3 linked regions of the Homo sapiens genome follow. The protein of the gene in region 1 interacts with the protein of each later gene in a pairwise test. Each region holds a gene or a part of one and is shown on either strand. Other genes may lie near its edges.

Region 1 (3,732 bases):
CCTTTGCCCACTGGTGGTTGTGGAAGCCGATGCTGGGCAGCAGGGGCGGAGCCAGTGGGGATGTCCTGTAAAAGCAGCTCTCCAGCAGGACCAGGTCTCTTGGGTGCCAAGCCAGACCTGTAGAGGAAAGCAAAGTGTGTGTGTTGGAGCGGGGGAAAGGGCATAGAGAGCCTGCAAGGCAGAACTATTCGGGGCCAGGCAGGCTCAGCGGTTAAGAGCAGGCCTGACCTCTTTAGAAACTGAGTGACCTCAGGGGAAGAGAGATGGGCTGGGTGGGAATGGGGAGGGACCAGAGGGCCAAGCTGAGGGCAGAGGTATCTGCCTCCCTGGTGAGCATGGCTGAGTCTCTGAAACAACTGCAAAGGCTGGGTAATCATGAGGCTGGGGATGGAGAAGGGGCAAACAGGAGCAGGGGAAGGCAACCAGGAATTTCTCTAGATGAACTGTGGCTGCAGCTGTCCCCGTTGCCCCTGTGTGCCATGTCCCCACACCTGGCTCTCCAAGTATATGTCCAAATATTCAGGACTGCTCCTCCACCCCCCACCACTATGCCATCTTCATCCTGGTATCATCATCTGAGCTCCCTAAACCTCATTTACTTTCCTCTGCTTTGCAGTCTGAATGATGCCTTTAGAGGCCCTAACCACAAAAAGATGATGGTGGCTCCTGTCATATAGAAATTCACATAGTAATGAAATGGAATATTGAACAACTTCAGTCCAACAGCATTCTAATTTCTCCCATGATGACTACATTGATGCTTCTTTTAAAGTAGCCAATGTCAATGTTTTTCAAAACATTCAAAAAATGCCCGTTTTTCTGGATCCCTAGAGATGAGCTCAGCTCCTCTTGGTCATGTGAGCATGTCAGAGAGTGACCATTCCTGCACCTCTTTACCTGTGCCCCAGCATGCTGGCCTTGGTGCCCACTTCCTTCCCCTTCTCTCCATCAATTAGGACAACCACAGATTCATCAGCCTCACCATTGCTAGAGTTGTAGAGAAAGGCTGCCTACCTGTCCCTTGGACGGGGCTCTGGGGGGCGAAGCCTGGGGATGCGCTCCATCTCCTGAGAGATCACATACTGGGTGAGGTCATCGTGCCAGGACAATCCTGTCAGGAAAGAGGACAGCGTAAGTTGGTTCAGGAGTCTGGGGATCCAGTAACGGGGACCACTGGGGATCAGAACTGTACCCTCTGCCCTGCAGCTCATGGGGTTTGTCAGAGTAGAGGGACAAACTCAGTGGGTGATCTGAGCTGTCTTCTTCCCACCCTCAGGTACAGCTATTGGAGCCAGACCACCTGGGTTTGAATCCTGCCTTTGCTACTGATGAATTATGTAACCTTGGGCAAGTTGCTGAACCTCTCCAAGCCTCAATTCCCTCATCAATAAAATGGGGATTTATACCTCCTAGGATTGTTATTATCATTAAAATAACACATATACATATCAAACGGTTAGAATAGTGCCTGTCATGTAGTGAACTTTTAACAAATGCTATTACCATAATTATTATTACTATTGTTATTATTCTTTGTGTTGACCCTGAACCTCAACTTTCTCTGTTTGTAAAGTGGAAACGATACATATTTCAGGGGGCTGTTGTGAAGATCAAGTGTGATCAGGGAAATCAAAGTGCTTAGAAAACTCTAAAGCATAATCCACATGTTTTAAACATGTATCATCATCTTCATTGTCGTCATCATCATCATCATCACCATTATCATCATCATCTTATTCATAGACAGCTCTCCTGTTTGACTCTTTCCCCCAAAAAAACTCTGCTCTCAGGAAAGTTCAGTCACTTATTCTAAAGGAATAATTTCCCACTTTTCACCCTCATTTTTTCTTCTCTAGTTCTGGATTTAAAATCTGTGCTGCTCTTAACTTGTATTCTGGTATCTACCAACATCCACACCTGCCTCCTTGCTTATTCACATTAGATGAGCTGTCTGTGTTCCTATTTAAAGCCAGTTCCTCTGAGCACTAGATTTCATCCCCTCTCACCTATTCAGGAACATTCTCCTTGCAATTCTCTCTTCTTTCCTACATAATTTCCTTTGTTCTCTACTGAATTATTCACATTATTCCCATGCAAACAATATGCAATTTCTTCCATCTTAAGAAAAATACTGCTTGATCCCACTTTCTTCTCTAGGGATCACTCCATATCTTTGCAGCAAGACTTCTAGAAAAAGTTGTCTATACTGACTGTATCCAATTCCTTTCTTTCTATTCCCTCTTAATCCACTTTATTCAGGATTTTATTCCCAACTATTCTACCAAAGCTGCTCTCATCAAGAGCAGCTTTGTCTGCATGTCCAAATCTAGTGGTCAATTTTCATATCTTATTTTACTTATCCCGTAATCATCATTTGACACTGTTGGTCACTCCTCCTCCTTGATACACTTTCTCCTGGCTTCTGGGACACTGAACACTGTTGTTTTTAATCCTACTCCACTGGCTTCCCCTTCTCAGTCTCCCTGAGAGGAAGTTGATGGTTCCTCTCTTTATCCTGGTCCTCATTTTTTTTTTTTTTTGAGATGGAGTCTCGCTCTATCACCCAGGCTGGAGTGCAGTGGTGCGATCTCGGCTCACCACAACCTCTGCCTCTCAGGTTCAAGTGATTCTCCTGCCTCAGCCTCCTGAGTAGCTGGGATTACAGGTGCTCGCCACCATGCCTGGCTAATTTTTGTATTTTTTGTAGAGACAAGGTTTCACCATGTTGGTCAGGCTGGTCTCGAACTCCTGAGCTCGTGACCTGCCTGCCCCAGCCTCCTAAAGTATTGGGATTATAGGTGTGAGCCACTATACCTGGCCTGGTCCTTTTAATAGAAGAATTATCTAGGACTTGATCCTTGGTCTTCTTAATAGACACTCAATCTTTTGGTTATCTCATCCACCTCATGGGTGTAATTACCATCTATATGCCAAAGAATTCCAAATTTATATCTCCAGGTGAGAACTCTGTCTCTCAGAATCCAGTCTCATGTACTCAACTTCCTGCTTCACTTGAGTAGACATCTTAAACTCAACATATTCAAAGCTGAACACCCCCACCAAGTTGAACCATTTGCAAGTTTCCACATTATAATTAGTGACATCTCCACTGATTCAGTTATTCAGTAAATAAAACCTTTGACTCCTGGCTGAGCGCGGTTGCTCACACCTGTAATCCCAGTACTTTGGGAGGCCCAGGCAGATGGATCACTTGAGGTTAGGAGCTCAAGACCAGCCTGGACAACATGGTGAAACCCTGTCTCTATTAAAAATACAAAAATTAGCCAGGCATGGTGGCGCGCACATGTAATGTCAGCTACTCGGGAGGCTGAGGCAGGAGAATCACTTGAACCTGGGAGGTGGAGGTTCCAGTGAGCAAGAGATTGCATCACTGCACTCCAGCCTGGGTGACACAGCAAGACTCTGTCTCAAACAACAACAACAACAATCAACAAACAAAATAAACCCAAAAAAACTTTGACTCCTCTCTTTATAACCATATCCAATATTTCACGAAATAATGCTGACTACCTTAAAAATAAATGCAGAATTCTCTCATCCTTCATTCCTTCCCTGCAATCACCTTGGCCCCATCCACATTCATCTCTTATCTGAGTTATTGTGGTAGTTTTTGTTTGTTTGTTTTAGTAAAGTGAAAGCAGTTTATTAGAGAAGTGAAGAAACAAAAGAATGGCACTCCATAGACAGAGCAACCTATTGTGGTGGTTTTTA
Region 2 (3,500 bases), on another chromosome or scaffold:
AGTGGCACGATCTTGGCTCACTGCAACCTCTGCCTCCCGGGTTCAAGCGATTCTCCTGCCTCAGCCTCCCAAATAGCTGGGACTACAGGCATGTGCCATCATGCCCGGCTAATTTTTTGTATTTTTAGTAGAGATGGGGTTTCACCATTTTAGCCAGGATGGTCTCGATCTCCTGACCTCGTGATCCGCCCACCTCAGCCTCCCAAAGTGCTGGGATTACAGGTGTCAGCCACTGCGCCTGGCCAACTTTTGCATTTTCAAACATACAAACATAGAATGTGTTTAATGTAAAATTAAATTTTTAAAAAGAACCATGGCCAGGCGCGGTGGCTCACTCCTGTAATCTCAGCACTTTTGGAGGCCAAGGTGGGCGGATCATGAGGTCAGGAGATCAAGATCATCCTGGCTAACATGGTGAAACCCCATCTCTACTAAAAATATAAAAAGTTAGCCGGGCGTGGTGGCATGTACCTGTAGTCTTAGCCACCAGGGAGAAGGCAGGAGAATTGCTTGAACCCGGGAGGCGGAGGTTACAGTGAGCCGAGATTGCGCCACTGCATTCCAGCCTGGGCGATAGAGCGAGACTCCATCTCAAAAAAAAAAAAAAAAAAGAAAGAAAGAAAGAACCAAAAGGGCACTGAAATTATATATGGCAACATGTTAGGGCAACATTGATTAAAAACAAAAAAAAAGAATGTTACATTTTTATCTATTTTTTTGTGTGTACTTGAATAGGATTCATAAAGCATTTTTAAAAGTGTATAATCCTGGGGCCCAACCCCAGAAATGGATTCAATAAGTAGCTCAAAGGTGGGGACCAGGATTCTCATTATCAACAAGGTCCCCAGGTGATTCTGATGCAGGTGATCCATGGACCATACTTGAGACATGCTGTATCAGGGCTGGCGTCTGACCTCAGGCCTGCCACGTGACCTTTGAGCCCCTGGTACAAGAAGTTTGTCAGGATGTCAAGTTCCTTGGATGCTATGCCTCAACCACTTCCACAAGGACCTCTGCTTATATTTGTCCATGCCAAAATGGACCATCCCCGGATATGTACTGTTGAGAACTGCCTTCAAGCCAAGGCCCACCCCTCAGGGGACTGGGGAAAGAAAGAAGAGCAGGCCCAGGTTTGCCTGGGGTGGGGGTAGGGAATCTCGAGCCCAGACAGCCCAACCCACTACCCTGGCCCTTGATCCCACCTGTTCCCGGGCAGCACTGAACATGGGCTCCTGGATGTCCGTGTACATGCGGCGGAGGGCATTATACCCTCCAGGGATGCTCTCAAGGTTGCTCAGGGCCCGGTCCTGGTTCCGCATCATCTCTTGCATCATGGCTGGATTCCGAGCAAGCTCCATTGTCTGATCAAGGGAGAGAGACAAAATGGGCCCCGGAACCAGGGGAGCACCAACCTAGGAAAAGGGTGGGCCTTGAGGAAGGGGGGTCTGTATCAGGATCAGGACCAGGGCCCAGGAACTGCCCCACAGTGACAGGGAGTAGAGTAAACTGGACTTCCTTCCTCTACTGTAATCTTGGCTCCAAGCCCGCCTCCCTGTGGGTATTTTGGTTGGCTTTTTCTAGTGGAGGACAATGATCCCAGCTGAAGTGAGGGCAGCAGCTTCCCTCCCTTAGGCTCAGAGTGTCCAAAGAAGTGTCAGGGTGCACAAGGAAACTGAGTCAGAAGAGACACAGAAAGAAAGGGGAGGAGGCAGAAGAGAAAATTAACATCTACTGAGAACCTACTGTATATGGGCACAGGGCCAAGTAGCTTACGGAATTCAAGTCATGTAATCTCCACAATAACCATCTCAGGTGTTTATTTCTGTCCCTATTTTGCAGATGAGCAAATAGGCTCAGAGATGTTAATTGACTTGCTGCCCTGGGACACACAGTCACTGAGTGGTGAAGACAGTGTTCAAAGCCAGGTTGGTTGGTCTGTCCAAGACCATACTGTGATTCCTGGTAAATGACTGCAAGTTGGGGAAGGAAAGCGTTCAAGCTGGAATAAAGCTACTGACACCCTGTAATTCCCACCCCCAAGTCTTTGCTCTGCCTGAACCTTGAGAAACACTGAAGATGGGGGCTTTCTTCTATGGAGCCAATGGCACAATCTCAATAAGGGGTGGCTATGTCAACCCCGGGGGAGTTCATCACAGAAAAATAAGTATAACTACTTGTTCCCATTCAACTTGGAATACCTTCCCTCTCCTTCCCAAATGTGCTCCACACTTGCCTTTTCTAAGACTCCTTTATAACTGATATGCCCAGCTTCCCAGAACTCTGATCTCTTGTTCCGTAATTCATTCATTCAATAAATATTTACTGCATGACTACCACGCACCAGGCACTGTTCTAGACAGTGAACAAAACACTCACAAGTCCTTGACCTTACATAAATTATCTTCTGGTGAGTCCAGCACTGGTGTCCACAGCCCTGCTGGGAAGATCATCTACCTTGGTCCTCTGGTGGAGCGGACCATGAGCTGGAACTCCCAAAGAGCAACATCACAACAGTCTCCCCTGGTTCTCCATTCCCAACTGGGCCCTGCCCAGCCACAGTGCTCCCCAAACAACCTACTATCTTTCACTCCCAGGCCTTTATATTTGCTGTCCCTCAGCCCTGAATGTTCTTCTTTCTTTCCCCCTGGTTCGTCTTCCTCCTTTGGGTCTCAGCTCGGTGACATTTCTTAAGGCCTCCTCTAAGCCTTAGGGTAGGGTCAGGAGCTCTTCTCTATGCTCCTAGAGGATCCCATGATTATCCTTCTGATAGCAATGGCCACATTGTATTCTAATTGCCGGTTTACTTGTCCTACTTCCCTTTGACACCTGGAATTCCTGAAAAGCTAGGCCTGTCTTTTCATCCCTGTACCTCCAGTGTTCAAAACTGCTGAATACACGAATGAACAAATCAATGTAGGACAAAGTAGGAAAGGCTGGGCAGGGCACGGCTGGGCACCAGTGTCCTCCAGCTCTCCAGCCCTCTCATACTCACCTGCCTCATGAGTTCAGGGTTATTGAGCATGTGGCTGATCTCAGGGTTCCGCTCCATCAACTGCTGCATCTGGGGGTTGGCCATAATCATGTGACGCATCAGATCAGGGTTAGACATCATATCCTGGACCAGGGGGTTCTCCATGATCTGTGACAGCATCTCAGGATTGGACATCAGCTGCCGCTGCATCTGCTGCTGCAGCTCCATGAAGTTGGCAGAGCCCAGGCCTAGGCTGCCCAGCCCCAGGATGCCCCCAAAGCCAGCTGTGGGAAGGGGGCAGGGTCACAGTCTGCCACAAGAACAGTGTCCTCACTTAGCCAGAGCCACTGAATTCAGATCTCCAGGACACGCCCCAAATGCTTCTCACATGTCCCTCTTCCTGTCATTCCCACAGCCCGGCCCTGATCCACTGCTGGCAAAAAAATGTGAGCCTACTAGACTGAGGCTGTGCCAAACATAGAACTGAGCAGAGAGAAGGCAACCAGCAATGGTCTGTTGAATGAGTGGC
Region 3 (3,732 bases), on another chromosome or scaffold:
GCCATGGTGTACATACTAAATTTTTTATTTTCACAGAACATATTATTAAATTCTGTATCACTGAGTTTTCTCCCACCTAGTTCCATTGCATGGAGGTACCACAAATTTTTGTCTAACACTTAGATTTTCTATTTATAGATATTTTAAATAAAGGTATGATGATAATCCCTCCACAAATAATCTTTTTATACATTTGATTGTTTCCTTAGGACAAACTCACAGAAATGAAATTTCTGGGCCAAAAGGTATAAGTATAAACATTTTTAAGGCTTTTGACTTAAATTACTAAACTGCTATTCAAAAAGGATGCATAAACTTATTTTCCAAATAAAAGTATGCAAGTAATCTAGTCTTCTGCATTCTCTTAGTTTATTTTTTCCAATTTGATAGGCCAGAAGTGGTATGTAATTTTTAAGTTGCATTTCTCTGATTAGTAGAAAAAAGTTGTTTTTCCCTAGGTTTACAAGTTATTTGTGGTACGTCTGTGAATTACAAATTCATGTCCTTTGTCCAGTCTTCAACTGAGCTATCCTTTCTTTTTGATATATTAGGGCTTTTATCCATTACCTGCACATACTATTATTTTGGCATTGTTTACATTTAATGTCTTCCATAGTATTTATGACATAGATAGGTTTAAAAATTTTATGTGGCCAAAACTGTGTTTCCTGTTTCCTAGTTTCTTAGTTCTTATGCTTAAAAATACATACAGTTGATAAACATGAGTTTGAACTGTGCAGATTTACTTACGCACAAATTTTTTTTTCTTTTTTCTTTTTTTTTTTAAGATGGAGTCTCACTCTGCTGCCCAGGCTGCAGTGCAATGGCATGATCTTGGCTCACTGCAACCTCTGCCTCCCGGGTTCAAGCTATTCTCCCCCACCTCAGTCTCCCAAGTAGCTGGGACTACAGGTGCATGCCACCACAACTATTTTTTTTATTTTTTAGTAGAGACAGGGTTTCACCATGTTGGCCAGGCTGGTCTCGAACTCCTGATCTCAAGTGATCCACCCGCCTCAGCTTCCCAAAGTGCTGGGATTACAGGCATGAGCCACCATGCCAGGCCACATGAATTTTTTTCAATAAATATATTGAAAAATGTTTTGGAAATGTGCAATAATTTGAAAAAACTCGCAGATAAACTGTCTAGCCTAGAAATATCAAAAAAAATTAAGAAAAATGTATGTCTTTAAGTGCATAAAATATATGTAGACACCAATCTATTTATGTGTGAAGCAACTGTTTATGTTATTGGTAAGGCCTCTGGATAACAGCAGGCCATTAGTAGTTAAGTTTTGGGGGAGTCAAAAGTTATATGTGGATTTTTCAACTGCACAGGGCAGATGTCAGCATTGCTATTGTGTTCAAAGCTGTTTTCAGTGTTGTCCAAAGGTCAACTTGTATATGTACACATTTATATATCTTCCTACTCAGAAATCAGAGACACATTTACTTCTATATTTTCCCCAATCTTTTATGGATTTTTTTACATAAGCACCATAATAAATGTTAACTAATTTTGTTGTACTGAATATAGTTATAATTTCTTTCCAAATAGTTAATAACTGTTCCAGCCCAAGAATGGTCTATTCTTAAACCACGAATGTGAAGTATCACCTTTACTTATTTGTGGGTGCTTGGTTTTGTTCCTGACCTTGCAATTCCATTCCACAGATCTACCAATACCTCTTTATTGTCCTCTTTATTGTAACTTTATACAGATTTTAATTTTACAGTTGCAAGAACCCCTCATTATTTTTTGCTGAAATGTCTTTGCTATGCTCTTAATAATCAGCATTTTAGATATGATTTAGACATTGTATCAAGTTTTTTTAAAAAAGCCTGTAATTTTGATTTGAATTGCTTTCAATTTATAAATGAAGTAGAAAAATACTGGGTTAACTATCAACTGTTTCCCCATTTTTATTATTTATGATTTGTAATTTTCTTCAGAGAAGTTGTACATTTATTAAATTTATTCCTTATTATATTACATTCTTAGTACTATTATTAAGAAAATTTTTTACTTTTCAAGTAACTGCTGAAATATAAAAAGGCTATTTATATATTTACACTTTACTGATAGCAATAATTTTTCAAGTCATCTTTTAAAATATTACCTACAAATACAGAAAATTTTGCTTCCTCCTATCTAAAAGCACTGCCTTTTTCCCCTTCTGTGTTAATATATTTTTAACAGTTTTATTGAGGTATAATTTACATAACACAAAATTCACCTAAATGTACAATTCAATAATTTTTAGTAAAAAAATCTAGTGGCCCGGCACGGTGGTTCATGCCTGAAATCCCAGCACTTTGGGAGGCCGAGGCGGGCGGATCACGAGGTCAGGAGATTGAGACCATCCTGGCTAACATGGTGAAACCCTGTCTCTGCTAAAAATACAAAAATTAGCCGGGTATGGTGGCATATGCCTGTAGTCCCAGCTACTCAGGAGGCTGAGGCAGGAGAATCCCTTGAACCCGGAAGGTGGAGGTTGCAGCGAGCCGAGATCGCACCACTGCACTCCAGCCTGAGCGACAGAGCAAGATTCCGTCTCAAAAAAAAAAAAAAAAATTTAGTTGCATTGCTATATAATCATCACCAAAATCCAATTTTTAAATGATTCCATCATTACAAAAAGATCCCCCACGCCCATTTGTGGTTACTCCTGGTTCCCAATCTCACCTCAATCCACTAATGTACTTTCTAACTCTACAGATCTGCTTATTCTGGACATTTCATATGAATAGAATTATACAATATGAAGTCTTTTGTGTCTAGCTTTTTTCACTTAATGTTTTTGAGTTTTATTCATGTCGCAGCATGTATCAGTTTTTTACTGATGAAAATATTCAAGTGAATGGACATATCATATTTTATTTATCCATTCACTAGTTGATGAATTTATGGGTTCAGTTTGAGGCTGTCGAGAATAACACCACTATAAAAATTTATATATAAGTCTTTGCGTGGACATGTTTTCATTTATCTTGGGCAGATTCTAAGACATGGAATTGCTGAGTTGCACAGTAAATTATACTTAACTTTTTTTTTTGAGATGGAGTCTCACTCTGTAGCCCAGGCTGGAGTGCAGTGGCGCGATCTCAGCTCACTGCAAGCTCTGCCTCCCAGGTTCACGCCATTTTCCTGCCTCAGCCTCCCAAGTAGCCGGGATTACAGATGTGCACCACCATGCCCAGCTAATTTTCGTATTTTTAGTGGAGGCGAGGTTTCACCATGTTGGCCAGGCTGGTCTCAAACTCCCAACCTCAAGAGATCTGCCTGCCTCAGCCTCCCAAATCGCTGGGATTACAGGCATAAGCCACCACACCTGGCCTTCCAATGGTTTTCTTAATTCATTTGGATTTTCTACTTGCAAGATGTTGTGGTTACCCTCCAGAGACAATAAACTCCCCCACCCAAAATTTGAATCAGATATTGAAATGCCAAAGTACCAAGAGGTACTAAGAGGATACCAAAAGGTTTATTACACATATAATAAGGCTTTCCAGGGAGAGCAAGGCAAGATCCCAAGCATGTCCCAAAATGACTTGAGAACCTGAAGGCTGACTGACTGGCTTGTGGTTTTAGAAGGTGGGGCTAGAGCAAGAGCTCCCTCATGTAGGCCTGAGCTTGCATGGTTGAAACTTCCTGCTGGTGTCAACCAAGGTAGCACTTGGGCTTTCTTATCAGCTTGTCAAGATGTGGGGCAAAAAGGAAAGGGAGACTTC

The links.
Region 2: the proteins of PTPRN (region 1) and UBQLN4 interact in a two-hybrid assay, tested with the Homo sapiens proteins (one large-scale study listed by BioGRID and IntAct).
Region 3: the proteins of PTPRN (region 1) and TIMMDC1 interact in binary tests that used the Homo sapiens proteins (3 or more experiments, as listed by UniProt).

Annotation. Positions count from the first base shown.
Region 1 is NC_000002.12:219,302,721-219,306,452, forward strand, and holds part of PTPRN (receptor-type tyrosine-protein phosphatase-like N isoform 1 precursor), read right to left. Parts: intron 1,112-3,732; coding exon 1,015-1,111; intron 118-1,014; coding exon 1-117. UniProt on the Homo sapiens protein: Plays a role in vesicle-mediated secretory processes. Required for normal accumulation of secretory vesicles in hippocampus, pituitary and pancreatic islets.
Region 2 is NC_000001.11:156,047,299-156,050,798, forward strand, and holds part of UBQLN4 (ubiquilin-4), read right to left. Parts: intron 3,256-3,500; coding exon 2,993-3,255; intron 1,362-2,992; coding exon 1,203-1,361; intron 1-1,202. UniProt on the Homo sapiens protein: Regulator of protein degradation that mediates the proteasomal targeting of misfolded, mislocalized or accumulated proteins.
Region 3 is NC_000003.12:119,508,530-119,512,261, reverse strand, and holds part of TIMMDC1 (complex I assembly factor TIMMDC1, mitochondrial isoform 1 precursor), read right to left. Parts: intron 1-3,732.